Homo sapiens: one gene and its partners. The protein of the gene in region 6 interacts with the protein of the main gene of each other region in a biochemical or structural test. Each region holds a gene or a part of one and is shown on either strand. Other genes may lie near its edges. The genes, in order: NDFIP2, SENP2, TRPV4, DDX54, RANBP10, NEDD4L and PYM1.

The links.
Region 1: of the proteins of NEDD4L (region 6) and NDFIP2, one has a biochemical effect on the other in vitro, tested with the Homo sapiens proteins (2 studies listed by BioGRID, with this or other methods).
Region 2: the proteins of NEDD4L (region 6) and SENP2 form a complex in vitro, tested with the Homo sapiens proteins (one large-scale study listed by BioGRID).
Region 3: the proteins of NEDD4L (region 6) and TRPV4 interact in a test that uses a peptide from one of them, tested with the Homo sapiens proteins (one large-scale study listed by BioGRID).
Region 4: the proteins of NEDD4L (region 6) and DDX54 form a complex in vitro, tested with the Homo sapiens proteins (one large-scale study listed by BioGRID).
Region 5: of the proteins of NEDD4L (region 6) and RANBP10, one has a biochemical effect on the other in vitro, tested with the Homo sapiens proteins (one large-scale study listed by BioGRID).
Region 7: of the proteins of NEDD4L (region 6) and PYM1, one has a biochemical effect on the other in vitro, tested with the Homo sapiens proteins (one large-scale study listed by BioGRID).

The regions. Positions count from the first base shown.
Region 1 is NC_000013.11:79,533,155-79,536,654, reverse strand, and holds part of NDFIP2 (NEDD4 family-interacting protein 2), read right to left. Parts: intron 3,333-3,500; coding exon 3,199-3,332; intron 1-3,198. UniProt on the Homo sapiens protein: Activates HECT domain-containing E3 ubiquitin-protein ligases, including ITCH, NEDD4, NEDD4L, SMURF2, WWP1 and WWP2, and consequently modulates the stability of their targets. As a result, may control many cellular processes.
Region 2 is NC_000003.12:185,613,795-185,617,294, forward strand, and holds part of SENP2 (sentrin-specific protease 2), read left to right. Parts: intron 1-769; coding exon 770-946; intron 947-3,500. UniProt on the Homo sapiens protein: Protease that catalyzes two essential functions in the SUMO pathway.
Region 3 is NC_000012.12:109,798,899-109,802,398, forward strand, and holds part of TRPV4 (transient receptor potential cation channel subfamily V member 4), read right to left. Parts: intron 1,861-3,500; coding exon 1,720-1,860; intron 15-1,719; coding exon 1-14. UniProt on the Homo sapiens protein: Non-selective calcium permeant cation channel involved in osmotic sensitivity and mechanosensitivity. Activation by exposure to hypotonicity within the physiological range exhibits an outward rectification.
Region 4 is NC_000012.12:113,182,679-113,186,970, forward strand, and holds the start of DDX54 (ATP-dependent RNA helicase DDX54), read right to left. Parts: upstream 2,801-4,292; 5' UTR 2,774-2,800; coding exon 2,600-2,773; intron 1-2,599. Other genes in the region: RITA1 (RBPJ-interacting and tubulin-associated protein 1), read left to right, coding at 3,336-3,343, 4,005-4,292.
Region 5 is NC_000016.10:67,722,570-67,726,560, reverse strand, and holds the end of RANBP10 (ran-binding protein 10), read left to right. Parts: intron 1-2; coding exon 3-133; 3' UTR 134-3,491; downstream 3,492-3,991. UniProt on the Homo sapiens protein: May act as an adapter protein to couple membrane receptors to intracellular signaling pathways.
Region 6 is NC_000018.10:58,399,633-58,402,039, reverse strand, and holds the end of NEDD4L (E3 ubiquitin-protein ligase NEDD4-like), read right to left. Parts: 3' UTR 501-2,407; downstream 1-500. UniProt on the Homo sapiens protein: E3 ubiquitin-protein ligase that mediates the polyubiquitination of lysine and cysteine residues on target proteins and is thereby implicated in the regulation of various signaling pathways including autophagy, innate immunity or DNA repair.
Region 7 is NC_000012.12:55,900,913-55,903,894, reverse strand, and holds the end of PYM1 (partner of Y14 and mago), read left to right. Parts: intron 1-414; coding exon 415-508; intron 509-1,539; coding exon 1,540-2,023; 3' UTR 2,024-2,482; downstream 2,483-2,982. UniProt on the Homo sapiens protein: Key regulator of the exon junction complex (EJC), a multiprotein complex that associates immediately upstream of the exon-exon junction on mRNAs and serves as a positional landmark for the intron exon structure of genes and directs post-transcriptional processes in the cytoplasm such as mRNA export, nonsense-mediated mRNA decay (NMD) or translation.

The DNA of each region.
Region 1 (3,500 bases), on a different chromosome or scaffold from region 6:
TTTCAATAGCATATTGATTACAGGGAATTTAACTATTAAGTAACAGGGAAATATTTATATAAGATGTTTAAAAAATAAAATGGTATCTAGGCAATAATTTCAACTACATTAAACATTAATTTGTGAATCCTGAAATTGGTAAAGACATCAAAATATTTTAAAATAGAGAGCTGTAACAGAACACCTGTGGTGTTTTCCTCTTTCTATTTTCCCACATTGGCTAACACAAAGAAAGCATTCATTAACTTAATCAACTGTCATTGACTAAACAACAAAAATGTGCCTGATAAATAACTAGGTACTGGGAATGTAAATGCAAGATCTCTGTCCTGGTGTTGCTCATGATTTATCTAGTCAAAAGACAAGTTACTGCAACAATTTAAAACAAGTTACAAAAAAAGAGCCCTACCCATTATAAGATGAAATGAGTCTACCTGAAGAACAAGCCATGTTCTAAACATCTTATAAAATTAATAGTTTGGAATTAGCATTTTTCATAGAAATATTAACAATGAGTTGTCATTTTCAGAAATCTACTTAACCATTCCATAACATACGTGCAATTCTACACATCAGAAATAGGAAATAGTAAAAACAGTAGTTTTAAAGTCTCTTGACTATCTATATTCTCCCAGTGAGAGTTGATTTAGGAAACAAGCTTTCAACTCACCCAGCTGAGACTCATTTACAACTGAATGTACTCAAATGCTAATTTGATGAGACTTTTTTTCAATTTTTAAATTTTGTTTGTAATTGACAAAAACTGTATATATTTATGATGTATTACATGATGTTTTAAAATGTGTATACATTGTGGAGTGGCTAAATTGAGCTAATTACCATGTACAGTACCTCAAATATTTTTTTTGTGCAAGAACGCTTAAAATCTACTCTCCTAGCAATTTTCAAGCATTGACCAATTTTTCATCTCAATCAGGTAATGGAGACTCATATGCAAACATTCATACTCTGCACAAAGAGGGTGCTGAAGCACCGGGTTAGGAAGCACTGGTAAATTTATAAGATTTTTTACAAGACCTAAGTTAGTCTCTTGTACACAATTCTATTAATACTTTGCTGTCTATGAAATTTTCCACAATGCTCACAAGCTGGGGTTACAATGATATCAGAAGCAGGTAAAAACAGGGAGCTTTTCTTTATGGACATGTTCCAATTCTGGCTGAGGATTACATTTACTTTCTAAAACAGGGTGCTGGAAATGATGACAATGAGGGAATGGAACAGTAATACTTCAGACTTTTCTCTTCAAAAGGGGTAAAATCAACTTTTCTCAAAGCACACTTACCAAGACTTAATGCTTCCTACCTTGTCTTTAGAATTCTATCCTATTGTATGGAAGTTAGGGCAGTAAATGATCTACGGTCCATAATACTTCTTAAGGTCTCTGGGCAAACACCCCCTGAGAAAAGGAGTTATTGGGACTTTCATAGCTAGAGAGGAATCAATCTACTTCACTGAGAGATGTGCATGTTCATTTACAAATATATGTGTTCTAAGTAACCGAGAACTTATTTAGACAAAAATACCCTATTTAGATCTATCCTCCTCCTCTGTGATGTTCCCCTCAAAGCAACAAAAATTCTTATTGACTCAGCTATATTATGCCACTGTGTTAAGAGACTTACTTTCCTCCTCTGTGAAGGAAAAGGCATAAAAAATAAATTCGGAGTTTACTGTCTTTATCTACCTTCATAACTGTGTCCAAAGCTATTTATGTTGACGTTTAACCCTGTGTGTGCTGGAAGAGGGTAGTAGGAGCAGGCATAAATAGGGTTATTGCTGATCAAAGAAACACATTCAGGGCACATGCTCTTCTCTCAGAGGATCTGCTTGCTGGGCTCTGACCTCATAGCAGCTAGAGGAGAATGCCATACATGGAAGCACATCTCTCTCCCTTGACTCCTCACCTAATTCTAGCTTTCCTGGGTGAATTGATTTTTTTGTCTTTTTCCCGAACAAAATGGGGTGAATCCAGGGATCTGAAACGGCATCTCTCAAGTCTGAAGCAAGAAAAAAAAGGCAAAAAATTCTAGCCCTCCTTGCAGCCACACTAAAATGTAAATAATTTCTGCCTCTTACCTGGCTGCAGAATAGTAGATGTGTATGTATCTCACTGACTCTCCATTACTGAGACAGCCACTCCATTTACCAGAGCAAAGAGTAATACACATGTATCTCATTAACTCCATTACTAAAACATGTAGATGAGGAAGACAGAATGCTTGATCATCATTCCAAAATTCTAGAGTAGAATGTTATCAAAAAAAAAAAAAAAAAAAAAAACAGCTGACAAAAATAATTTGAAGGCCTTGTAACATTTCTCTGTGTTTTTTGGCTACCTTGAGTTCTTTCACAGTCACTAAACTGGCTATGCTAATATAGAAACATAAATAGAAAAAAAGATGATTCACAATTAAAATGATAGGCCATGGAATTCAAACTATGTAAGAAGATAAATAAGTACATGGACAGCAAAGAGGTCAGTGGACTTGAGGTCCAGGCAAAGAGAAGAACTTTCCAAGTGGTGGTAACCAGAGTGAGTGAGTTAGGATGCGAAGTGAAGGCTAACACATGAGGGGCCTGAAATCAAAATTTAGGAAGGGATAAGCGGGGAAGAGCAATAGAAAAGAGGAAGTCAAGGGATAAAGAAGGTGAATTTAACTAGGAGAATGCCAATTTCAACAAAAAGTGACCACACACATAAGCAACAGTAGAACAAATACAGTAACCCTTCAACAATACACGGGTTAGGGACACCGACCCACCTGCATGCGGTAGAAAATTTGAGTATAACTCTGACTTCCCCAAAACTTAACGACTCACAGCCTATTGTTAACTAGAAGCCTTACTGATAACATAAACAGTCGATAATACATAAACTACTATTTACATGTATTTTATACATTCATTACAGGCCTTTTCTTAATTTTTTTGATATTTCTAGGCTATGCAATTTGTCCCAAGTTTTTTCAAATTGCTGCAGATCTCCAAAATATTTTTCCAATATATTTATTTAAAACAATCTGCATACAAGTAGACCTGTGCAGTTTAAACCCATAATGCTCAAAAAAAATCTACATACACACTTACACACAAAGAACTGTTTTTAGTATTACTAAATGTATATATCAATTAACGAAAATAATTTTATCAAAAGAAATGATGAAATTTTCTTACTCTTTGAGATGTTTCTGCTGCTGCAGCTGCCATTGCAGCAGCTTTAGCCTTCTCAGCTTCATCGTATGTAGGAAGAGAGGTAGCAACGCTATAGGGAGGTGGCACGGGATAAAACTCACCGTAAACTTCTGTATCTGAAGAAAGAATTCAAAAAGAATAACCAATAAAATCTATTTAATTTTGTAGCCATAGCCATGACTTAATAATTTACAACTGGCCACCAATACAGGACTACTATTGCTATTATAGGCCTATGTTATAAGCTATAAAATATATAAATTACTATTACAATCATATATCTT
Region 2 (3,500 bases), on a different chromosome or scaffold from region 6:
TCCAGCCTAGGTGACAGAATGAGACTCTGTCTCAAAAAAAAAAAAAAAAAAAAAGGCAGGAAGCATTGAAAATACACAACTTTTTTCTTCCTTCTGAGTTGTTGGAGTTTTGCCTCTGTACAGTAGCCACCTTTGTTTATGAGAGACCAATCTGCCTCCATACCAACATGTTACCTACATTTTATGGCTTCTTAGGGAGAATTTCTTAAAAATCATACATCTCTGGAAAGAGATGATATGTTCTGGGTTGCTGGCAGAATTCTATTTGTTTACTACAATTGTGGTTATATAGGTGTTCATTCAAATTAAGTGGTACATTAATGTTTTGTGCATTTTCTGTAATATCAAATGACTTTTTTCAAGGATAAACTAGAACCAAGTTGAGTTACTATAAAGATAGTAGGGATTTATTCTGAGTGATGGGATTGTGGGTCATATTTTTTGCTGTTTAAAACTTTCATAATATCTTTTAAACATACTAATTTTAATTGTGATAGGAGAACTGAAAATACTTTTCTTGCTACTTCCAGGGAAGGTGGTGAGTGTTCTGTTTGATGGTTCATAACTGAGGGTCCTGTGAGGCCTAGGTCTGGAGCTTTTTTTGCTCCCCCTTGCAGGGACAGACAGATAGGGTAAATCTACTCACTTGGGGGATTTGCTAATTCTCTTTTCTTTCACATTAGTGGCAGTTTTATATTTCATGTGTAATCTGTGTTTATATTTGCAAGTATCAAACATGTCAGTAGAATTTAGATAATTTTTTGATCAGAGGAGGGGATACCAACTGGAGCCTGACCTATCAGAAGAAGTGTCGGCCCGACTCCGCCTGGGCAGTGGAAGCAATGGCTTACTCAGGAGGAAAGTGTCAATAATTGAGACAAAGGAAAAGAATTGCTCAGGCAAAGAGAGGGACAGAAGAACGGACGATCTCCTTGAACTTACAGAGGTATTGTTCTTTGTATTGATCCTAAAAAGAGGCATGTCTTTAAATAACCTCAGTTATTCTAACTTGAATGTTTTGTTTTGAGGACTTTCTCCAGGCTAGGGGTGAATATATGAAAACATGTCAGGTCCATGGTCTGTTGATTCACTTTGACTACATTGATCTTTAGTGAGGCATGATCATTAGTGGCCTAAGGGATCAGATTGATATTCAGCAAATGGGGAGTCGACACAGTCATCTCATATCTTGGAATACAACAGATTCTTTGTAAATTCTAACCTTCAAATATGTTGAGTTATATAGTATGGGTTTGGCATTAAGAATAAGTTCATTGCATTTTTTTTTTGAAAGTTATTATAGTTTACTAAAATGCCCCCTTTGTTGATTATTGCATTTGAAAATAGTAAAAACTTACAGAACATAAAGAATGAAGGTAGTTAAAATTCTTATTTTAAAGATGTGCCCACATCTTGGCTTCCTCCACAATGTTGCCCTAGTAGGCAAATCTCTTGAATACTTACTGTTATATTGGGCATGTAGGTGGAGAGAGAGATCCATAAAATGGTGAAGCTGTGTGCAGTGGGAAGCAGCATATATTTAGAAGAAAATAATTTCTTTTTTTTGAGACAGAGTTTCGCTCTTGTTGCCCAGGCTGGAGTGCAATGGCGCGATCTTGGCTCACTGCAACCTCTGCATCCTGGGTTCAAGTGATTCTCCTGGCTCAGCCTCCCTAGTAGCTGGGATTACAGGCACCTGCCACCATGCCCAGCTAATTTTTGTATTTTTAGTAGAGACCGGGTTTCACCATGTTGGCTAGGCTGGTCTCGAACTCCTGACCTTAGATGATCTACCCACCTCGGCCTCCCAAAGTGCTGGGATTATAGGCGCAAGCCACTGCCCCCGGCCTAGAGGAAAATAATTTCTATTGGGTTTATAGATTTAGTTTTGTATCTTAAATAATGCATTTATCTGCATAATTCTTTAGTATGATGAAGCCATTTATTCCATAAGGAGTCAATTGCTAGACTGCTGGGTGGTTTCCAAGTTTCTGCCTGTTTGCTTATTCTCTTCATGTCAAAAAGGATGGTGTGACCCCTTAGATGTCCTAATCTTATTTTGATGTTTTATTTATTTATTTATTTTTGAGATAGAGTCTCGCTCTGTTGGCAGGCTGGAGTGCAGTGGCACAATCTCAGCTTACTGCAACCTCTGCCTCCCAGGTTCAAGTGATTCTTCTGCCTCAGCCTCCTGCGTAGCTGGGACTACAGGCGCGTGCCACCACGCCCAGCTAATTTTTGTATTTTTAGTAGAGATGGGGTTTCACCATGCTGGCCAGGCTGGTCTCGAACTCCTGACCTCATGATCCGCCCGTCTTGGCTTCCCAAAGTGCTGGGATTACAGGCGTGAGCCACCACACCCAGCCTTTTTTGATGTTTTAAAAGTTTAAAGGCGAGAATGGGCGTGGTGGCTCACGCCTGTAATCCCAGCACTTTGGGAAGCCAAGATGGGCGGATCATGAAGTCAGGAGTTCGAGACCAGCCTGGCCAGCATGGTGAAACCCCGTCTCTACCAAAAATACAAAAAAATAGCTGGCATGGTGGTGTGCACCTGTAATTCCAGCTAATCAGGAGACTGAGGCATGAAAATTGCTTGAACCTGGGAGGCAGAGGTTGCAGTGAACTGAGATCATGCAGCTGCATGCACTCCAGCCTGGGTGACAAAGTGAGAATCTGTCTCAAAAAAAAAAAAAAAAGAAGGGCCAGGCTGGTGGCTCACACCTGTAATCCCAGCACTTTGGGAGGCCGAGATGGGCAGATCACGAGGTCAGGAGATCGAGACCATCCTGGCTAACACAGTGAAACCCCGTCTCTACTAAAAATACAAAAAATTAGCCGGGCGTGGTGGCGGGCGCCTGTCATCCCAGCTACTCGGGAGGCTGAGGCAGGAGAATGGCGTGACCCCGGGAGGCGGAGCTTGCAGTAAGCCGAGATGGCGCCACTGCACTCCGGCCTGGGAGACTGAGCGAGACTCCGTCTCCAAAAAAAAAAAAAAACGTTTAAAGTGGAAATCAGGAGTTTACTATTATGAAGGGAGCAAAGTCCAGGAAATTAGATGCACCTGGGTTCAAATCTTCTTCTACCTTTTAATAATTATATGACTTTGAATATGTAAAATAAATTCTCTGGGTTTCAATTTTCTTCTCTATAAAATGATAATAATGTCTTCCTCACTAATATGGATCAATGATGTGCTTCAAGCATCTAACACCATGTTTGACTCATAGTGGTTAATACGTAGTAGTAGGAAAATTGAGACTATACTTTAGATGTAAATATTATTATTAAATTATTGTTTCCACAAGCTAATAAGTGAACCAGGATTTGTTGTAAGTATTACTTACAACAATTAAGTAAGGCTGCTTTGTAGTTATAAGTTAAAATATTTTCAGGGCTGGTGCAGTGGCTCATGCCTATAATCTCAGCACTTTGGGAGGCCAAGGCAGGTATTGCTTGAGCCCAGGAGTTTGCAACCAACTTGGGCAATATAATGAGGCCCC
Region 3 (3,500 bases), on a different chromosome or scaffold from region 6:
CAGGGGCAGCTCCCCTGCGGGCCAGGGTGAAGGGTGGGAGGTCAGCGAAGGGGGCCCAGGGTGGGACTCTGCCTGCAGACACTCGGGGGACGGACACCGTGGCGCTCTGAGGATAATGACGGAGACAGCACCAGCAGTGGATATGAACTGCACGTTTCTCTGGGTGATGCCAGGGAGATGGGGTGTGGCTAGTTAAGGGCACAGCCACGCGATTTGGAGGCTGTGAGGGACTGGACACATCCAATGATGGAATTCTTTTTTTTTTTTTTTTTGAGACAAAGTCTCACTCTGTCGCCTAGGCTGGAGTGCAGTGGCACAATCTCGGCTCATTGCAACCTCCACCTCCCGGGTGCAAGCAGTTCTTGTGCCTCAGCCGAGTAGCTGGGATTACAGGCGCACGCCACCACACCTGGCTAATTTTTGTATTTTTAGTAGAGGCAGGATTTCGCCATGTTGGCCAGGCTGGTCTCAAACTCCTGACCTCAAGTGATCCGCCGACCTCGGCCTCCCAAAGTGCTGGGATTACAGGCGTGAGCCACCGCGCCCAGCTGATGATGGAATTCTTTGTGTGACTTTGTCCCTGAGCTGCACATAATGAATGCCTTTAAGCAGGGGCAAAATTCAAAATATTTCATGAGTCCAGTGATGACAACGGCAGTGGTGGGCTTTGGGCCTGGTGATGGGGCTGTTGGTCCCAGCATAAACCAGATTAAAGCACACAGACAATACAGAGCTGGGCGCTGACATCACAGCCCAAGGGCCTCTCGTGATCCCCACTGCACAGCTGGGGAAGGTGAGGCTCAGGGAAGTGAGGTCACATGCCTGGAAAGTGCAGAGTGAGGATTTGGCTTTTTTTTTGTTCTTTTCTTTTTGCTTTTTAAAGACGGGGTCTTGCTCTATTTTCCAGGCTGGAGTGCAGTGGTGCAATCATGGCTTACTGCAGCCTCGAACTCCTAGGTTCAAGTGATCCTCCAGCCTCGGCCTCCCAAGCAGCTGGGACTTCAAGCACATGCCACCATGCCATCTAACTTATTTATTTATTTATTTATTTATTTATTTTTTGAGACAGAGTCTCACTCTGTCACCCAAGCTGGAGTGCAATGGGGAAATCTCGGCTCATTGCAACCTCTGTCCCCCAGGTTCAAGCAATTCTCCTGCCTCAGCCTCCCAAGTAGCTGGGATTACAGGCACCCACCACCATGCCCGGCTAATTTTTGTTATTTTTGTAGAGATGGGTTTCACCATCTTGTTGGCCAGGCTGGTCTTGAACTCTTGACCTCAGGTGATCCACCTGCCTCATCCTCCCAAAGTGCTGGGATTACAGGCATGAGCCACCGTGCCCAGCCATTTTTTAAATGTTTAAAAGAGACAGGGTATTGCTATGTTGCCTAGGCTGGTCTCAAACTCCTGCCCTCAAGCGATCCTCCTGCCTTGACCTCCCAAAGTGCTGGGATGACAGGTGTGAGACACCGTGCCTGGCTGGAGTGAGGATCTGAATCCAGGTCCATGGTACTCCCCATGGCACTTACACCTCAGAGGCAACGGCCCTGTGACCAAGACCAACGTGCAGCCTGTGGTCCAGAGTGCTGCCTGCGCTCATGGCCAGAGTGGCCCTGGGTGTCTGGGTGATGGTCAGGGCTGCAGACACCAACCAGTATCATGCTATCTCCCGCCATGCTTCTCCAGCATGCTGTCAGCCCCCACCAGGCCCCTCCTTACCAAAGTAGAAGTAGCCCCCCTCATCCTTGGGCTGGAAGAAGCGCCCACGGGCCTGGGCGTGGACATCAGCTCCCTGGGCCACGAGAAGTTCCACGTAGTGTTTGCAGCGACGCTCAATGGCGATGTGCAGGGCTGTCTGACCTGGGGGCAGGGGACGGTCATCCAGGGTCCTGGCGGAGCAGAGACCTAGCCAGGCTTGCTGGGGGTGGGGGTAGGGTGCAGGACGTAGAAATTGGGGGGTGGGGGATGCAGGCAGAGTCCTGCCCAGCGACACCCAAGGGCAGCAAATAGGTCCTTGGATATTCCCTGGGATCCATCGCAGAAGCAGAATCTCAAGCCTGAAGGATACCTAGTTTGTGGAATCCTGAATGTGAGAAGTTTTTAGATTCATAAGATGCTTTAAAAATCCTAGAGGAGGCCAGGCGCAGGCTCACGCCTGTAATCCCAGCAATTTGGGAGACCAAGGAGGGAGATCACCTGAGCCCAGGCGTTTGAGGCAAGCCTGGGCAACACAGTGAGATCCCATCTCTATAGAAATGCTAAAAATTAGCTGGGCCTGGTGACTTACACCTGTGGTCCCAGCTACTCCAGAGGCTGAGGCAGGAGGATTGCTGAAGCCTAGCAGTTCAGTACCAGCCTGGGCAACTGATATGGTTTGGCTCTGTGTCCACACCTAAATCTCACCTTGAATTGTAGTTCCCATAATCCCCATGTATCATGGGAGGGACCCTGTGAAAGGTAATTTAATCATGGGGGCAGTTACCCTCATGCTGTTTTCATGATAGTGAGTGAGTCCTCAAGAGATCTGATGATTCTATAAGGGGCTTTTCCCCCTTTTGCTTGGCACTTCTTCTTCCTACCACCATGTGAAGAAGGACATGTTTGCTTCCCCTTCCACAATGATTGTAAGTTTCCTGATGCCTCCCCAGCCCTGCGGAACTGTGAGTCAATTAAGCCTCTTTCCTTTATAAATTATCCAGTCTTGGGCAGTTCTTTATAGCAGCATGAGAACGGGCTAATACAACAACATAGTGAGACCCTGTCTCTACAGAAATTTTAAAAATTAGCCTGGCATGGTGGTCCATGCCGGTGGTCCCAGCTACTTGGGAGGGTGAGGTGGGAGACTCCCTTGAGCCCAGGAAGTCAAGGCTGCAGTGAGCCATGATCACACCACTGCACTCCAGCTTGGGTAACAGAGCAAGACCTTGTCTCAAAAAAAAGAAAACTCCTAGAGGAAACAACAGTACCTTGGCCTCCCAGAATTTTGGACTCAAGATATAATATTCATGGATTTTGAATCTTAATATCCAGGCATCTGAAGGTCAACTCTGATTTACAGAATCTCAACTGGGGATTGGCCCAGTTCTTGGCCCCCTGCTGCCTTTGCCTCTTAGAACTTGTGAACTCAGGACTTATTATCATAGAGCCTTAGAGTATCCGCCACCACAGCATCTTAGGGCCAGATCCCGAGTTCATGATCACTAGACTCGCTGCATCTCAGAATCTTGGAATCTTTTTTTTTTTTTTTTTGAGACAGGGTCTCACTCTGTCACCCAGGCTGGAGTGCAGTGGCACAATCATAGCTCACTGAAGCCTTGACCCTCTGAGCTCAAGTGATCTTCCCACCCCAGCCTCCCAAGTAGCTGGGACTACAGGTGTGCACCAACAAGCCTGGCTTTTTTTGCATCTTTTTTTTTTTTTTGAGATGAGTCTTGCTCTTGTTGCCCAAGCTGGAGTGCAATGGCGCGATATTGGCTCACTGCAACCTCCACCTCCCAGGT
Region 4 (4,292 bases), on a different chromosome or scaffold from region 6:
TCCCAACTAGCTGGGACTACAGGCACATGCCACCAGCCCGGCTAATTTTTGTATTTTCAGTAGAGATGGGGTTTCACCATGTTGGCCAGGCCGGTCTCAAACTCCCGACCTCAAGTGATCCGCTCACCTTGGCCTCCCAAAGTGCTCGGATTACAGGCATGAGCCACCACGCCCAGCCTCCTTTGGTCTTTTCAACACTTTTTTTTTTTTTTTGAGACAGAGTTTCACTCAGTCTCCCAGGCTGGAGTGCAGTGGGGCAATCACGGCTCACCTAGCTCAGGTGATCCTCCCACCTCAGCCTCCCAAGTAGCTGGGACTACAGGCACACACCACCATGCCTGGCTAATTTTTGTATTTTTTGTAGATGCAGTCTCGCCATGCATGTTGCCCAGGCTGGTCTCGAACTCCTGGCATCAAGTGATCCTCACTCCTCGGACTCCCAAAGTGCTGGGATTACGGGCATGAGCCACGGCACCGGGCCAACAACCTTTGAAACATATATAATCATTTACTTGCCTTCTACGGATGTGGAAACGGGCACAGAGAGGTTAAGCAACCTCTCCAATGTCCCACAGCCAGTGCAAGGTTGGGCCAAATTTGAACACAGGGCAGTGCCGTGAGAAGCCCTTGGTCTGAACTACACTTAGACTCCTCTTCTTTGGTAATAACCACCTCTGCCCGCCTGTGCTGTTCATTACCTTTAGTAGTTTCTCTACATTTGTTGAGCACCTACTGTGTGCCAGGTACTGGCTAGGCTGGAAGATGAGAGAGGGACAGTGGGATGAGGTCTCTTCTAGTTCCTGCCTTGGAGTGTGATCCTTTCTCTTCATATAAATGTCCACTTACTCATCTTGCCCTGAGCCTACCTGGTGCCAGGCACCCGCTGGGAACAGGACTGTGGGAAATAATGGGCGCAGCCCTTCTGCCCCATTGGTGCTCACACCCATCCCTTCATGTGCATACACATGACATTCAGTAATGGAAACGGCACAGGCCTTGGAATCAGACAGTCTCAAGTTTGAATCTCCTGGCTCTTGTACTCACAAGCTGTGAGGTCTTGGTCAAGCTGCTTTCTCTCTTTTTTTGTAAAGATGGGATCTCCCTTTTTTTTTTTTTTCTTTTTTTGGAGACAGAGTCTTGCTCTGTTGCTTATGATGGAGTGCAGTTGTGTAGCCACAGCTCACTGTACTCTCCGCCGCCCAGGTTTAAGTGATCCTCCCACATTGCCTCTCCAGGAGGTGGGACCACAGGTGGGCGCCACCAAGCCAGGCTAATTTTTATTTTTTGAGACAGAGTCTTGCTCTGTCACCCAGGCTGGAGTGCAGTGGTGCAATATCGGCTCACTGCAACCTCTGACTCCCAGTTTCAAGCGATTCTCCTGCCTCAGCCTCCCGAGTAGCTGGGATTACAGGCACATGCCACCACACCTGGCTATTTTTGTATTTTTAGTAGAGACAGGGTTTCACCATGTTGGCCAGGCTGGTCTTGAACTCCCGACCTCAGGTGATCCGCCTGCCTCAGCCTCCTAAAGTGCTGGGATTACAGGCGTGAGCCACCGCGGCCATCCTAATTTTTTAATTTTTTGTAGAGACGGGGTCTGCCTATGTTGCCCAGGCTGATCTTGAACTCCTGACCTCAAGCAATCCTCCCACCTCAGCCTCCCTAAGTGCTGGGTTTACAGGCGTGTAGCCACTACACCAGGCCTTTGACTATTTCTTAACCCTCTAGGCCTCAGTTTCCTCCTGTAGAAAAATGAAGATGACAGTTGCTGGTGGTGTTAGCACAACGTTGGTGTGAGGATTAAATAATAAGGCTCGTACAGCTCTTAGCATGGAGCCTGGCACATAGTAAACGGTCAACAAACACAAACTGGCCGGGCTCACGCCTGTTAATCCCAACACTTTGGGAAGCAGAAGTGGGAGGACTGCTTGAGGCCAGAAGTTCGAGACCATCCTGGGCAACATAGGGAGACCCCCGTCTCTACAAAAAATTTAAAAATTATCCGGGCGTGGTGGCGCATGTCTGTGGTCTCAGCTACCGGAGAGGCTGACGTGGGAGGATCGCTTGAGCCCAGGAGGCGGAGGCTGTAGCAAGGCGTGGCTACACAACTGCACTCCGGCATGAGCAACAGAGCAAGACTCTGTCTCAAAAAAAATTGTTTTAATTCGTTTCCCAGAGGTTTGGAGGCGTCACACTGTCTCAAGCCACGCAGTCTGGCCTCCCCTTAATTCAACCTCCCAAGAACGCTCCAAACTCTCAAAGTCAGATCTTCTGCACCCGCACTTTTCATTGGGCGAAAGGGAGCCAGGATCCGCCCCACGAGCAGGAGGCAGCCAATGAGAGACGCGCGACCAAAACCCGGCAGGAAGGCCCGCAGGCTCCAGCCCCGGGATCCCAAGGCTCTGGCCGCGGAACCCTGAGCCTGACAAGCCCCGAGACACGTGCTCAGGCCGGCGGTCCCAAGACCGGTCCTCGGGTCGGCAGCCTCCCTCCCCACACTCTGCGGAGCCCAATCCCCAGCTGGGGAAACTGAGGCCTCGAGGCGCTGCCCGGAGCCGGGTCTCGGGCCCGAACATGCGTCCCAGCCCCACGCGCCTACCTTCCGGGCCCGGGCGTCATCTTCCGCCTGGATCTCAAACTCGCCGTCCTCCGAGTCGCTGCCGCGGGCCTGGGAGGCCGCGCCTCGGCGCTTCCGGAGCCCTTTCTTCTTCCTCCACTGGGCCATGGCAGCTCGCGACCGAGGTCCAGCCGCCGGGCCCTTGTCGGCCGCCATTCGGGCCGCGCGCTGGGAACGCAGAAGGGGGCGTGGCCTGAGGAGCGCACCAACTGCGTGGGGGGGGGGGAGGTGCGGTGACCACGTGACCTCCGCTGAGCTTTCGCCAGTGCCTGCGGCCCTCGGCGGCCTAGTACACACGCACCTGAGTGAGTGGCACCAGAGGACCCTCTCCATGTTTAGGGACCTCCTGGGCCTCAGGAGCGTGGCGCCCGCCCCTGGGCGGACTCCCCCCATCCGCGGGCGCGAATGGTCCGGGCCGCGTCCGCAGTGCTGCTGGCTGCTCCCTGGTTGCTGGGTGCAAAGTGCTGGGTTCTGGGTTTCTGGATTCGCGGGCCGTTCACACGTAGCCTGTGCCGGCTCCTCGGGTGAGTCCGTCCGCGCGCGGTGCCCCGGGACGGCCTAGGCTGCCGGGGGTCCGGGGCCCCAGGCATTCCGGGCTGCAGATTGACGGGGATCCCGGATGCACCGCGCGCCCCCGCGCCCTCACCGACGGGTCCAGACCTGGTGGGAAGAAGGTGCGGGGACGGGTCCCTGAGGATCCCGATGCCTACGAGCCAAGATGCTCAGGTAGGAGAACAACCCAAAAATGCAGGGACCTCGGGCACTTTTTAATCGGGTCATTGATTTGGGAGTCGCAGAATGTGGGGCGGTGGGGGCGGCGGTGATCTCCCGATAGCAGTGTAGCCAAGTACACAAGCTCTGGACTCAGATTTCACTTCCACCGTTTTAGCTTTATAGGTGTGACCTACACATGTGACTTCACCTCAGTTTTGTGATCCGTAAAATGGACAAATTCGAAGCTACTTCACAGTGCTGTTGAGAGGATTAAATGAAACAATGCTTGTAAAGCTCTTTGCAGGAGGTAGGCATGGGATCCACGCTGGCTGTCATTGCCCCCACCCCCATCAGTACACATAGGAAAGTGCCTGTCTCCCCTACCACCATAGTGTGTTTTCTGGTTGGTGCCTAAATAGACACAGGTGTCATCTCTCCTTCACCGCCAGAGTCATTCTGTAAATAATTGCCAGTAGCCCCCCTTTCACCACCATTATGACAACTAAAAAAAAGCCAAAGAAATTTCCAAAATGCCCCCTGAAGTTGACAGCTCCCCTTTGAGAGACTGGTTGAGAGAGAACTAAACCCTTGGGATGAGAACTTCAGACACTACCGGTCTTCCTCCATTAGCACTTCTGTGGCTCAGGGGTGCTACTCTGACCTCCTCTCACAGGGAGCCTCGGAAGCAGGGCCTGGCCGGCAGAGCACACCTGCTGTCACCAGGGACCACAGGCAGCATGAAGACCCCCGTGGAGCTGGCCGTCAGTGGGATGCAGACCCTCGGCCTTCAGCACCGCTGCCGAGGTGGCTACCGGGTCAAGGCCAGGACGTCATATGTGGATGAGACTCTGTTTGGCAGCCCAGCAGGCACCCGGCCTACCCCACCGGACTTCGATCCGCCCTGGGTGGAGAAGGCTAACAGAACCAGAGGCGTGGGCAAGGAGGCATCGAAGGCCTTGGG
Region 5 (3,991 bases), on a different chromosome or scaffold from region 6:
AGAGTCCCAGAACCTGCCAAAGCAGCCCCCTCTGATGCTCGCCCTGGGCCAGGCATCTGAGTGTCTCCGGCTCATGGCCCGAGCAGGCCTGGGTTCTTGCTCCTTTGCCAGAGTTGATGACTACTTGCACTAGCTGACTGTGCTGGCTGGCTCTGGCTGGCCCTCCACTGGCCCCAGGGCTGGAGCTGCCCTGCCCTCCATAGGCAACTGGTGCAGGGACTGGGAAACCATAGACAGAGTCCACTCCTCCTGCCTGGCCTTTCCCCCTCTCCCTTTCCTTCCTTCCTTCCTTTCTCTGCCCACCACCCCGCTCAGTCTCTCTCTCTCTCCCCTTCACGTGCAGCGGCCTGTAACACAGTATTGGCTGGTTACTCTCATGTAGCGCCTTCTATTTTGAAAGGGGGGTTTTGTTTTGAGGAGGGGTTGGGGTTTTTAAATTTTTTTCTCCTGACTGAGCCACCAGTATTTATCTCTGGAGAGTTTGTGCTGAGCTGGTTTCTGCTAATTTAGTGATGAAGCCTATCCAAGTTGGTGATAGCTTATTATTTTCATAAGTAAAAAACAAATGAGATTATATATATATATATAAAAATATATATATTAAAAAAAAAGACAGTATTTATCGTAGCATTAGTGGTCCAGCACCTCTTGGGTGAGGCTGTCCAGGCACCATGTTTTCTTTGAGTCCAACTCATTAAAAAAGAAGAATCTCTGTCACCTCAGCCAAGTGATTTATTTTTTGCTCCCCCTTTTTTGAGTCACAGGCCGAGCTGCAGCCTAGGAAACCCAAATAGGGTTTGGTGGGCCACTTAGTGGGCATGGTTACATTGGTTTATAGCATCCCAAGAACTGTAGATCCCTAGGCCCCTGAGAGCTGGACAGAGCAGAGAACTACAGGGCCAAGGGTCCAGAGAAGTGATAACTTGGCCCAGGGCCACACAGCAGAGGTAGAGGGTCCTTGGCCAGCACACTATCTACCACTCTACCCCACCTCCCACTGCCTGCCTTGCTCCCCTTTCCTCCCTTTTCAATACCCTATCTTCCCTTGTTGTTAAGATGGCCAAATAATACATTTACTCTAAATTGATTGCCTGGAAACTACCTGCCTTCGTCCTGAGAGCTTCTGTGTGTCAGGCTGCTGGAAAGAAGACTCCATTCCCAGGACAGAGGCCCTTGAGTACAGGGGCTGCTTTCTTCCTGCCTAGATCTTCACCATCTCTGCACAGCTCTGAGAGAATGGATGCTTTCTGTTGAGAAACCAGTACCTTGTGGAGGCAGGTTCTTGGGCTGCTACTCCAGGGAGTGGATGGAATCCTTGGTCCCCTAGGCCAGACTTCACTGCCACTGTGCCAGACAGCTCCCTGCAGCTGGGCCCTAGCCACTCTTAGGAAAGACTATTGGGAGTATTTGCTGGCCAGAGAATGGGACTCTATCAGCTTTACACATGTCCCACCAGCTGTTTCAGATAGATCCTTACAGCTGGCAGAGTAAAAGTGGTCCCGCTACCATTGGGGAATCAGGAAAGGAAAGACTGAGATGGTTGCCAGGACTTGGGGTGGCCCACCTGTGGAGAGGACTGGCTGCCCTGGAGGAGGAAAGGGAGGAAGTCTACACAGAGGAGCACCAGGACGGCTGGAATTTCCATATGTGCTTCACATTGTGAGGGGAGTGCACAAGCCGCCCATGCAAAGAGTAGGGTCAGCCATGGCAAGGCCGGAAGTTGAACTTTCAGTCCCTGCCTGAATCTGGGCTTTGCAAGCTCCTGCTCCATATTGGTGGACATGGGAATGGTTGGTGTGGCCTGAGATACCCATTGCTCACCAGGCCTCACTGGGCCCACAGCTGGGCAACAAGAAAAATGTTTGAATTGGACCAACTGCTGGTGATGGGGCCAGGGCCCTGGGCCCTGTGCTGTCAGAATTCTGCCTTGGGAAATGATCCTATAGCTGCTGCTTTTTCTTGGTCCTTGGGGCTGGCAGACCCATAGACCATGGCCTGTTAGGAGGCGTCCTGTCTGTAAAGGAAATTCATCTCTTGTGACAGCCTGGGGCTACCTAGCTCCCAAACCCAGAAGTTGGAGACATCAGGCTGTTTAAATGATCATAGCCTAGCAGGATTGGATTAAAACCACAGGCTTTTGCAGCTGGAATGGGGTTCAGTGAACATCTCCCCCATTCCTCTCTTGCTACAAATAAGGAAACAGGCCCAGGAGATTAAGTGACTTGGCTAAAGTCACATAGCAAATTAGTAGCAGAGCCGGGACTATCCCTTATCCCTGTGGGTTGGGCAACACTATTTAGTCCTGAAACCGAATGGCAGATAAACCCCATGAGGGGTCAGGCTGATGTGCCCTCCAGCAGTATCTGAGAAGCTGCTACCTTCAGGGGTGTGTCAGGGATGAGGACGGGTGCCTGAGCTTAGGTTGTGGAGTGGCTGAGAGGGCCCAGGAGGGCTCGGGACAGCTGTGTGCTGCATGGGGTTGGGTGTCTGCCTGGCTCGCACTTGGTACCCATGGCCACCTCCCCATTTTCTGTGCCTTATCTCACTGTTTCAGCTGAGTCCAAGTTGTTTACTCTGTTCCTCTCCAGAGGGGCTCTCTGTCCCAGTTGGGCAGCTCACCTTTGGGACATAAGCCTTTGCCCCACAAGCTGTGGAGAGGGCCAAAACCAAGCTGCTTGAGCCCACTCTCTTGCTGAGAGTCCAGGCCTGCCTGCCTGCCAGCCAGAGGTGCCCCTTATGCACATCCAGTCCTACCAGCCTGCTTCCAGGAGCCTAGAGTGGGAAAGGCACCTGGGGGAGCCCTGGTGAAGGGCTGGACCTGACCCATGGAGGCAGGAGGAAGACCTGGCTTTCTTGGTTTGTCCGGCCCTGGGGAGCAGCCTTCCCTACTCACTTTCCCCTTGCGGCACCAAATGGTCACTCCTTCCAGAGCAAAAACTGGCACTCATAGCAAGCCAGAACCCCCATCCCCATCCTCATGGGTCTGTGGCTGGGTGCAGGCCATCAAAATGGACACCACGAGACAGAAGTGGGGACTGCCTGGCCACCTAGCGCCTTCCCACTCCTTAAGCAAGCACAAAGAAGATGAGGCAGAGAATTGTCAGAGCTGAAAGTTCCTTTGGTTGCTCACAACTCAGGTATGCACCCATGTGGCAGCCAGGCAGCGGAGCCCTACTAGACTGCCAGTCTCATGCACCCAGACCTGTGGCCAGATTGTGGCCTCTGGCTGCCTCAGGCATTTTCCTCTTTGCATTGGGTTTTCCTGCATTAGTAACTACAGCTGCAACAGACATCCTCCACATTGTGCACACTGGTTTTGCCTTTGTCCTCAAGAGTTGATACTTGGCATTAGCATGAAACTTGTGGGTGTGGGAGGATGGAGAGAGAACTCTAACACAAAACATCTTATTAAAATTGTACTTGAGAGACAAAAAAAAAACTCTGTTGTATTTTGACAGAATTATTTTTATTAAAATACACATCCATGAGCAGTCATGTGTGTCTGGTCTCTGTTTTGAGTCTTACTGAGGTTGGCACCCCTTCTGTGACACATCCTGTCCTAAAGGATTTGGGCCCTTCCCAGCCTCTCAAGTGCCCAGGCCCTCAGGTGCCTTCTTCAAGGACCTTTGAAACTGTGTATTTGTAAGACCCCAAAGAGGACAGGTACTTAAACCTCAGTTCTCTCTTGAAACGGCTTTCTTCTTATACAAGGAAAAAGTAGCAAATTCAACTAAAGAGCCTGGGCACAGTGGCTCACGCCTATAATCTCAGCACGTTGGGAGGCTGAGGCAGGTGGATCCCTTGAGCTCAGGAGTTCGAGAACAGCCTGGGCAACATGGCAAAACCCCATCTCTACAAAAAATACAAAAATTAGCTGGGCATGGGGGCGCATTCCTGTGGTCCCAGCTATTCAGGAGGCTGAGGTGGGAGGATCACTCGAGCCCAGGAGGTCAAGGCTGCAGTGAGTTGAGATCATACCACTGCACTCCGG
Region 6 (2,407 bases):
CTTTTAGTAGGCTTAAGCCATGTGTTTTGGGCAGACTTTTTTTTTTTTTTTGAAACGGAATCTCGCTCTGTCACCCAGGCTGGAGTGCATGCAATGGCACAATCTCAGCTCACTGAAACCTCTGCCTCCCGGGTTCAAGCGATTCTCCTGCCTCAGCCTCCTGAGTAGCTGGCATTACAGGCATGCGCCACCACGTCTGGCTAATATATATATATATTTTTTGTATTTTTAGTAGAGATGGGGTTTCACCATGTTGGTCAGGCTGGTCTTGAATGCCTAACCTCAGTGATCTGCCCACCTCAGCCTCCCAAAGTGCTGGGATTACAGGCGTGAGCCACTGTGCCCTGCCAGACTTTAATGTTTTTAAAAGTGCGGCGCTTTTAGGGAGATGAAGGAAATGAACATACTATAAATCTGCAGGCATTTAAACCCCTCTGACAACAATTAAGATGGTGCATTCACAAAGAAGCTTTAAATCAAACAACCCATAACACTTGATGTAGAAAATGTTCCAGCTTCCATAATTCTTTATTAAATATTTGACAAGTTGCATCGCTTCTTTACAATGACTTCATTTTGTCACATTAGTCTTTTGCTGTCAGGAAAACAATCTACAGTTTCTCTTTAGATCTCTCAAGAAAAAAGAAAAGCGAAAGGATTGTTCTTCAAGAAAACTTCCTGTGTGTATCAAATTCAACCATATTTTAAAGCTATTCTGACTGTGAAAATGAGCATTATTCATAAGTTGCCTTAAAAAAATTCAAGGTAGTTTGGTTTTTACCACTGTATCAAATAGTACTTGGCTTCCTATTAGGAGGTGGGTTTATAATAAAAAGTTATGAAACATTGATAATTTATTTGGAATGCTTGAAACTCTTTTCACCTTAAAAGTCACTGTTTTTTTCATGTTTCATTTGATGATAGATCCTGAATTAGGAAATGACAGCAAATTAACATCATCTTCCTAGGGTTTTCTTAGGCTCCAAGGGTTGAAATTCACAGGACACAGCTTGGAGAAAACTGCAGAAGGGACTAAACTCTCACCTCCTTTCGAAACCAGATTACTCAATAAAGGTGTAAAAATGCTATACAAATATATACAAATATATTTGGACAGCATATGTACGTATATATGTATATATATTACATACAGAGTAGTAAAGGAAGAACAAAGTCACGCAAAGTTAACATGAAGGAAACCGTGACAATCTAGGTGAAATCAGTCTGAGTAAAAGGGGAAAACTGGCTTACACGGGAACACATATCTGCAGACACAGAGTTATGGTCACGAGGAAGGCTTCTGATGATGCACTGGTACGGGGTTGAGAATGCAGTGCACGCGAGGTTAGGCGCCAACAGCAATGCTACTCCTTACACACAGAAAACCAACGAACGGAAAGACGTGCCTTTGAAACATGCGTTGCTTTCAGTGGAACATCTTTAACAAACAACAGATGTTTAATGAGGTTTGCTTGGAAAATTTCATGCCAACAGGAAGCTAACCCTTTTCTAGAAAACGTTCTCCAAGCTCCCGTCCTAATGCTGTGGCACTTTCTCTGACATACTGAGAACACTCTGGGGTGGGGGTGTGTGTATGCAAATGTATAGACACTGTTCATTAAGGCTTATATAAATTAAAAAAGTGGTCCAAAGAATATCACATTTTTCCCCAGTTTTAAAATCTAAAGTACAAAGTGGAGTTTATAAGGATTTGTTTTTTAAAAACACATCTCAGTCCTGAAATTGGCAGTTCTGACACGACTTATCAGGATGTACCCCAATGCCTGAATGACAGAGGTAGTGATCTTCGGGGTCAGGGGAGGTCAGGAAGGGAGCAGGCGGGCAGTTACCCTGCACAGCGGCACCCTCTACTGGCGAGGCAGCAAATGATACCAGACAGCACCTCCCACCTCTCCCTCTTAAGTACAGGGGTGCAGGGCCAGGGTAAGGAGGAGACAGAAGAAGGAGAACTAGCACAGTGTCACGTAGGGGCTGCAGAACTGATTAACCCAGGCTCTCTTTATACGTTTTTAAATTTCAGAGGTGAGTACAAGACTCTCAGAAATACAGGAGTCGACTGTTAATGGGTAACTGTTAGAATAATTAAAAAGTTGCTGTGTATGAACCTGGCTTTCGGGAGGACCAGTGTGGATCTGGCAAGATAGCAGCGGTGCACACTCTCTATGCAACAATGGGAGATGTAGAAAATGGTTCAAATGTTTTGCATGCTGTTTCTCAGAATCTGTCACTGTGAGGCCGGGTGCGGTGGCTCATGCTTGTAATCCCAGCACTTTGGAAGGCTGAGGCGGGAGGATCACCTGAGGTCAGGAGTTCAAGACCAGCCTGGCCAGCATGGTGAAACCATCTCTACTAAAAATACAAAAATTAGCCAGGCGTGGTGGTGGGT
Region 7 (2,982 bases), on a different chromosome or scaffold from region 6:
TTGACCTATTTTTTTAAGTTCCATCTAAATAAAATTTCTCCTTTACAACATCCGCTATTGTCATTTCTCCTCCCCGTGGTTTTTGTGTCTTTTTAGCCTCTTGTTCATTTACTGCCTTTCATGTTCCCATGCTATTGCCTTGGTTTTTTAACAAAATTCTTCCTCTGTGCCTATCCTGTCTTACCTACAAATAGAATCTTCTTGAGGGCAAGGATGGTTTCTTGTACGGTGTATTGGCACTCGGTAAATAAATAATGAGAGAGGGATTGAGTGTTGGTATGAGAAAAGGAGCCTAATGGTTGCATTTGGATGAATGGGTGCTGAGAGATGGTATGTACATTTATACATTCTTGTCTCATCTTGTAAAATGTTTGAAAATAAGAGTAATTTTCAACTTGATTTTTCTTATTTTAGGCAAGTATATCGCGTCAACACAGCGACCTGACGGGACCTGGCGCAAGCAGCGGAGGGTGAAAGAAGGATATGTGCCCCAGGAGGAGGTCCCAGTGTACGTGGTTAGGCTTTGCGTAGGGGTTTTCTGATGGGGTCCCTACAGAAGGATAGAATATCCTTATGCCTACAAGTTCAGGGAGGACTCTCCTAAGCCCCAAGGAAATGGAAGGAGGGGCAACTATCTGAGAAAGGAGAGAAAGAGTCTGGGATTCAGGGATGAGTGAGGGTTACAGATCACTAGTCCTATACTTTTGACCTCTGTTCATTAGAACCTCCAGAGCTTTAGGTTCTAGGGACTTCGCTGCATCTTTCCTGCAGAGCAGAGGAAAGTTGGGGAGGGACCATAAAGAGAGAAAGGTGGTCAGGCCCAGTGGCCTACATCTGTAATCTGAGCACTTTGGGAGGCCTAGGCAGGTGGATTACTTGAGGTCAGGAGTTCAAGAACAGCCTCCCCAAAGTGGTGAAACCCCGTCTGTACTAAAAATACAAAATTACAAAATACAAACATCAGCCAGGCGTGGTGGCACGAGCCTGTAATCCCAGCTACTCAGGAGGCTGAGGCAGGAGAATCTCTTGAACCCGGGAAGTGGGAGGTTGCAGTGAGCTGAGATTGCGCCAGTGCACTTCAGCCCTGGCGACAGAGCGAGACTCTGTCTCAAAAACAAACAGGCAGGCGCAGTGGCTCTCTGTAATCCCAAGCACTTTGGGAGGCCAAGATCGGTGGATCACCTGAGGTCAGGAGTTGAAGACCAGCCTGACCAACATGGTGAAACCCCATCTCTACTAAAAATACACAGTTAGCCAGGCGTGGTGGCAGGCGCCTGTAATCCCAGCTACCCGGGAGGCTGAGGCAGGAGAATTGCTTGAACCCTGGAGGTGGAGGTTGCAGTGAGCTGAGATTGCGCCATTACACTCCAGCCTGGGCAACTGAGCGAGACTCTATCTCAAAAAACAAACAACCCCACAAAAACAACAACAAAAAAAGGAAGCAAGAATGTAATGAGGATGAAGTGTTTGGAAGTTTAAGAAAAGGGATCAAAAAGTCAGTAATTCTCTGAAACTCTTGACATCCTTTGTTTCCTGCAGATATGAAAACAAGTATGTGAAGTTTTTCAAGAGTAAACCAGAGTTGCCCCCAGGGCTAAGCCCTGAGGCCACTGCTCCTGTCACCCCATCCAGGCCTGAAGGTGGTGAACCAGGCCTCTCCAAGACAGCCAAACGTAACCTGAAGCGAAAGGAGAAGAGGCGGCAGCAGCAAGAGAAAGGAGAGGCAGAGGCCTTGAGCAGGACTCTTGATAAGGTGTCCCTGGAAGAGACAGCCCAACTCCCCAGTGCTCCACAGGGCTCTCGGGCAGCCCCCACAGCTGCATCTGACCAGCCTGACTCAGCTGCCACCACTGAGAAAGCCAAGAAGATAAAGAACCTAAAGAAGAAACTCCGGCAGGTGGAAGAGCTGCAGCAGCGGATCCAGGCTGGGGAAGTCAGCCAGCCTAGCAAAGAGCAGCTAGAAAAGCTAGCAAGGAGGAGGGCGCTAGAAGAGGAGTTAGAGGACTTGGAGTTAGGCCTCTGAGGCCTTTGGGGAATAGGGAATGGACTGCAGAACAAACCGTGGGGCTCTCTGGGGTCTGGGGGAATACGGGCAACAGCAGTCAGGAGGGGTACCCCCCATACTGGCTTACTTCCACCTCCTGCGGCCCAGCTCTGTCCTCCAGAGCCTAGCGTCTCCCTCAATCCTTCCCTTTTCTTCCCAACTTCTACTTTTTGGACTTTCCCCCTCCCATTCCCAGTGTTCAAAATCTCAGTGACTACCCCAGGTACCTTTGCTGCTGATTTGGGTGTCTTGTTTAAAAGAAAATCAGGTGGGTGGGAATCTCTTGGAGAACTGAGGCTGAGGGTAGAGGGAGTATGCCCAAGTCTTGGAGTCTTGGTTCCTGTTCGCGGTGTTTATGGGTTATTTCCCTCTCCATCCCTCATTTTTTTTTTTTTTTTAAAAAAAGCAAAAATGAGAATAAACACAAGTAGACATGTCTGGCTTTGCCTCCTTATTTTCAGCTCCTAGTAGATATTGTATCTCCTGAGTTTGGCACAGGAAGACAAGTATTGGGAGTGATTTCTTTTCTTTTCGAGACAGAGTTTTGTGCTGTTGCCCAGGTTGGAGTGCAGTGACGTAATCTGGGCTCACTGCAAACTCTGTCTCCTGAGTTCACGCAGTTCTCCTGCCTCAGCCTCCCTCCCGAGTAGCTGTGATTACAGGTGCCCACCACCACACCTGGCTAATTTTTTAGTAGAGATGGGGTTTCACCATGTTGGCCAGGCTGGTCTTGAACTCCTAATTTCAGGTGATCAACCCACCTTGGCCTCCTAAAGTGCTGGGATTTTAGGCATGAGTTACTGTGCCCAGCCGATATATATTTTTTTCTTTTTCTTTTTTTGTGAGATGGAGTCTCGCTCTGTCTGCCAGGCTGGAGTGTAGTGGCGCGGTTTCAGCTCACTGCAACCTCTGCCTCCCGGGTTCAAGCAATTCTCCTG